Regions from separate parts of the Homo sapiens genome. Here region 1 is linked to region 2. The links come from fine-mapping of genetic effects on gene expression. A gene starts in region 2. The other region holds a variant in brackets. All regions are shown on one strand. Distances are from middle to middle. Region 1 overlaps ENPP3 (ectonucleotide pyrophosphatase/phosphodiesterase 3). Region 2 holds the start of ENPP3 (ectonucleotide pyrophosphatase/phosphodiesterase 3).

Evidence for each region. PIP is the estimated chance that this variant, and not a neighbour inherited with it, causes the effect.
Region 1: its variant is fine-mapped to the expression of ENPP3 in whole blood (INTERVAL, PIP 0.95).

What each region holds. Positions count from the first base shown.
Region 1 is chr6:131,716,187-131,719,112 of GRCh38, forward strand. ENPP3 (ectonucleotide pyrophosphatase/phosphodiesterase 3) reads left to right here. Exons shown (of 25, transcript NM_005021.5): 16 at 2,486-2,552. Among named protein-coding and RNA genes, the nearest start is that of CTAGE9, 6.6 kb to the left of the region's middle. The variant G/A (reference allele first, on the strand shown) is at 1,632.
Region 2 is chr6:131,635,576-131,638,501 of GRCh38, forward strand. ENPP3 (ectonucleotide pyrophosphatase/phosphodiesterase 3) reads left to right here and starts at 1,727. Exons shown (of 25, transcript NM_005021.5): 1 at 1,727-1,887. The coding sequence starts at 1,810. RefSeq lists a silencer at 366-455.

The DNA of each region.
Region 1 (2,926 bases), 81 kb after region 2:
TTGGAAGTTGAGCTAACTTATGACAGATAGAATCAACTCATTTTCCAAGTGCCAGCTATCATTGTTCCATATGTAACTTCCAAAGCTAAATTAATGATTAGACATGAACATGAGGAGGTAGAGAGCAAATTTCCAAAGTTTTTACTTGGAAATAAATAGAAAAGAGAGTTTTCAAACAATATTTTAATATTTTGCTTCTGAATGAAATTTTGCAATATTTACTATAGTTTTTAAATTGAGCTGGATTAGGAGATGGAAATATTTTAAAAAACTAGATTTTTCTGAAAATAGAAAAATAACCATAGTACGAGCATTAGAAAATTTACCAAAAAACTTAGTCAAAAAACCTTTTTCTTTCTTTCATTAATGAACATTCTAGCTTTCCACACAGAATTTAAAACTTAATTACCTCCTACTAAATAATTCCATTAATATTGGGAAACCAAATATCTATGCAGTAAGAATAAAAACATTTATTTATTTATAATTAAAAAAATAGAGGCCGGGTGTGGTGGCTCATGCCTGTAATCCCAGCACTTTGGGAGGCTGAGATGGGTGGAACACTTGAGGTTAGGAGTTCCAGACTAGCCTGGCCAACATGGCAAAACCCTCTCTCCACTAAAAACACAAAAATATTAGCTGGATGTGGTGGCACATGCCTGTAGTCCCAGCTACTCGGGAGGCTGAGGCAGGAGAATCGCTTGAACCCAGGAGGCAGAGGTTGCAGTGAGCCAAGATCACGCCACTTCACTCCAGCCTGGGCGACAGAGCGAGACTCAGTCTCAAAAATAAATAAATAAATAAATAAAACCTATAGTTGTCATATGCCAGCAATTTTATTGGCATTAACTAAGATAAGGAAATGAAGTGACATCCTTAGGATATCAAACTTAATTTCCTTCTGAATCAGGACTTGTCTTGCTTTCCCCATTCCAGGTACTTACCTGGCCTCTCTTTTCTTCCCTCTACTGGGTAGAGTTGAGTGAGTGTGGCCTGGTCAGATTTGTGATTTATTTTTTAATTTGTGATTTATTTTTATTTTCTATTTAAACTGAATTAGAGTCAGTTATGAATTTTTTTAATGTTGATTTTTTAAAGACACTAAATTACTGTCCTGTTGTTAGTCGAGTCGAGTTTGTAAAAACAAACAGAAACCCTGCGGGGGGTGTGTGTGTGTGTGTGTGTGTGTGTGTGTGTGTGTGTGTGTGTGTGTGTGTGTATTTGCCCTTGGGGTGAGAGGTGAGGGTGGGGAAGAAAATGAGAGAATCTTTTAGGGCCAGCCTTTGGAAATAGGAGTCCTTTGTTCCCTTCAGAGATCAAATTTGACTCAGTATAACATTGTTGCTTTAAAAGATCTAGGTTCATTTATCGCTATTTTCCAAGTATGAAAAACAGCTACTTATAAAATTGTTAATACTGCTCAATTCAAAACAGTATTAAAATGTAGGCAAAAACTAATTAATTAAATTTGAAAATTTATTCAAATAATAAAGCTACAGCCTATGGAAGAAAATCACAAAGGTAAACATAATTATAATAATAATCTCTGAATTTACAGAATATACTAGCTTCTTTTTACCAAGTACAGTTATGTGTTGTATAACAACATTTTGGCCAACAATGAACTGCTT[G/A]TGTGATGGTGGTCCCATAAGATTATAATACTATAGTTCTACTATAACTTTTCTATGTTTACATGTGCTTAGATACACAAATCCTTACCATTGTGTTACAGCTGCCTGTGGTATTCAGTACAGTAGCATGCTGTACAGGTTTGTAGCTAGGAGCAATAGGTTAGACCACATAGCCCAGGTGCGTAGAAGGCTGTACCATCCAGGCTTGTGTAAGTGTACTCTGTGATGTTTCCACAATGATAAACTTGCATAAGAATGCATTTCTCAGAACATATTCCTGCCCTTAAGCAACGCATGACTGGATTATAATTAACTTGCCCTGCCTATTCTTTATTCATGCTTTCATATTATTTTCCTAGACATCTTCACTGGAAAACAGAAATTGATATTTTTCCCCAGTTGCAAAGATTTATTCCTAAAGCATTGAAATGCTAAAATAACATATTAACCAAACTATTCTTCAGCATATAGTCATTGATGTGTAAAGGTACACCCATGAGCTTGAAGACAAATTCATTTTTTTTTAAAATATGTACCTTTATTACTAGCCTTAGTCAGTATCTATCAGTCAGAGACTTTTGAATTCTATTTATAGATCCTGGAATTTTCCTTTCTTCTCTCGTACCCTTCTGTTTGTTCCATTATGGTTATGAATTTGAGCATGAAAATAAATATATTTATTCATTATTGATATAAAAATTTATTCTGTTGTTGATAGAAAAATATATTATTCTGTTGTTGATAAAAAAATTTACTTATAAAATTTACAGAAACTATATAAAATTAGTTAAATCTTACACTATGGTCTCATATCAATATATTGATCAGTGTGTAATAATATTTTTTCTTTATAGGAGTAAATCAAATACAAATTGTGGAGGAGGCAACCATGGTTATAACAATGAGTTTAGGAGCATGGAGGTAACTTACTGCTTTTTTTTTTAACTTTTATTTTAAGTTCAGGGGTACATGTACAGAATGTGCAGGTTTGTTACATAGGTAAACATCTGTCATGGGGGTTTGTCATACAGATTATTTCATTACTCAGATGTTAAGCCTAGTTACTGCTTTTTTAAAACAGATATTTATTGCACACCTATTTTATTATAGGCAATGTTCAAGGTTCTTGAATACATCTGTGAACAAAACAGATTAAGATCCTGCCCTCACGAAGCTTTTATTCTAAGAGGGGGATACAGACAGTAGGAATAATAAAATAATACATTATTTGTTATGTCAGAAGGTAAATGCTGTGGGAAATAAAGAAAAAGTAAAGGAGAGTAAGGGAGAAATTG
Region 2 (2,926 bases):
TCCCAGGCCTTCCTGGGCCTTGAAGCATGACAAGATAACGAAGGAATACTCACACTCCTTGTGACAAGACAGTCTTCGGGAGATTCCCAGCAGCTGCCGGGTGAGGTTTTCCTGGAGACTCTCCCCAGGGCTATCCCATGTGCAAAACCACACGTCCCTCTCCCTACTGGGGAATAACGGAGATCGGGGTGGACGCGCTCAAAGGGTAAAACCAGATTTATGCCAGGAGCCTATTATTTTCCCATCTGGGCTTGTTAAGCCATTTGCCTGGTACTGCCAGGGAAGCAATAGGGCTCGCTTATACACCTGCTTTGCATTTGGTTAAGATCAGGTTTTGAGTGGGTTTTGAGTCTGTTCTGCCCGAGTGCACCCCCTCTCTTGTCTTTGTCTGAAATCTGTCTCTGCTTGTTTGTGTATCTGTCATGGCTCACTGCAGCCTCAAACTCTGGCCTCAAGGGATCCTCACACCTCAACCTCTCCAGTAGCTGGGACTATTGGCATGCACCACCATGCCTGGCTAATTTTTGTTGTTGTTGTTATAGAGACAGAGTCTCCCTATGTTGCCCCGGCTGGTCTCAAATTCCTGGACTCAAGCAATCCTCTTCCCCCTGATTTTCAGAAATAGTGTCTAAATTCTATGATTTAGACATGTTTAGTTAGAGTAGTGATGCAGTCATTGTATTTATATTAGAATACATTCTTTTCATATTTTTTTTCTCACTGCTTTTAGGGTTGGAAGAGTTTAGTTAGTTAGAGTAGTGTTTTCCAAAGGGTGTACTGCAGTCTACAGGATTTTGATAATCTTTTCATTAGAGGAGTATTCAAGCTTTATTTAACCAAGGGGGTTGTCATAGAACTCATGTTCCATGGAACCAAACTTTGAGAATCACTGCCTTAGGGTCACTGAAACTAGAAGAGTTTAGCATCCACTATTTGCTAAAATTCTCTTTGACCAACACTATTATTAATTTAGCTTCTTTCATCACCAAACTGTAACCCCTTTTCAGCATGGAGTACACATGCTAGGATGCACCAGTCTAGATACATAAGAAAATAGTGAATTTAAATTGATTAGTGAAAATTGCTTGGATTTGGGGAGTTAGAAGTCTTGGGTATCAGTTCTAGTTCTGGCACCTAGTAAATAATTTTGAGCAATAAGTCATATATAATAACTTAATTTAAATAATCAGAGCCTTAATTTGCTCATCTAAAAACAAGAATAAAATGTTTATAAGGGATATTTTTAAGTTTGACTTGAGCTAATGTGTATAAAAACTTGTCAAATTGTGAACACTGTAAAAAGCAAGATATAATTATCACAGAACTAAGTACTTTATATTGGTTCAGCAGAGTTTCAGAATTTCTACTGTTGTCAAAGCACATGTTTTGCTATGTTGATTTTCAGCTGCTATGAAGTTTATAGAAAAGCGGAAAGTCTGAAATTTCTGTGACAAGGCTTTTTGTTCGGGGTTATTTTTAAAGAAAACAGAAGATCGGATTGCATTAAAATTTGATGATTGTGTTATTCTTGTTATATATGTCTTGACTAGTATTTAGTAAAAGTTATAAGGAAAAAAGGAGCAGTTGTCTGCAATATACTAGAAATGAACTTTAATCTTTTCACACGATTCTTATTACAACATTTTTTCCTCTCTCCAGATTGCCCAATCACTGAAGAGCTGTGATCTTCCTAAACAGTTAAAAGTCAGGCACAGCTATGTAACTCATACAGTTTCTCTTTGCCAGACTAGACTAAAGAAGGAGCACTAATTTATTCTGATAAAACAGGTCTATGCAGCTACCAGGACAATGGAATCTACGTTGACTTTAGCAACGGAACAACCTGTTAAGAAGAACACTCTTAAGAAATATAAAATAGCTTGCATTGTAAGTACAATTCTTATTTTTAGTCTTTCTAGTTTTGTGACAAATGTTAAAAGTATATGATTTCCCATTTACATTTCTTTGTGTTGCTATTAAAATGTAAACTTTTAAGTAACTGTATTCAGTATTATCCCTTATGAAAACTCTAATGCAAATTAATATCTTAAATCATATTTTACACGTAAGAAATTTGAGTAACAACAAGTTAACATTACGTTAAACTCAAAAGTTGGAATCCATGACAGAACGCTTTGTGGCGCTGATTTTTTGCATGATTATAACTACCTCTCAATCACTTTTTTATTGCATGAGTATTTTAAGACAAGAAAGTGAGAAATTAAAATCATTGTACCCTATTATTTGCTGAACCAACAATTGTATCCTATTTTACTTCACTCCTAGAGATAGTCTCTTTTGCCTATTTTCTCTCTCTTGTCATTTCATGTGGTAAGATCTGCCACCCCCCCTCACCCCCCAAATAAATTTTCCTTGATTTTATTTTCTTTTTTCTTTTTTTTAATTTTAAATTTTTTTCTTTTTCTTTTTACTCCAGAAATACGCTTATCCATTTCCTTGATTTTATTACTCTCTCTTTTCCCTTTGCCATCAAACTTTTGGGGTAAAGAGGGCTCATTTCATTGCTTCAGTTTTCTCAGCCCCCAACCATTCCTTTGTGCTCTGGCTTTGTTTCTACTGTACTGAGTCCCTGACTCAAAAGTCAGTCCTCCTCGTCCTTCATCCACTTGAGTGTTCATAACAACAATAACTTCCTGGTACTTTCTCATTCTGAATTATTCTCTCCCCTTGCTTCTACCATGACATTGACATTTTCATTTTATGACTTTTTTCCTTATCTGCATTCTTAGCCAACAATTTATCTTTATTCTCATGAAAATTACAACACAAGCTTCACTAAACCCTATCTAAGATCTCTTAAGAAATCTCATGTTCTCTAATAGTCTTTTTAATTTTAATTTTATTTTTGAGACAGGGTCTCTCTCCTTTGGGATCTCACCTCACCACAACCTCTGTTTCCCAGGCT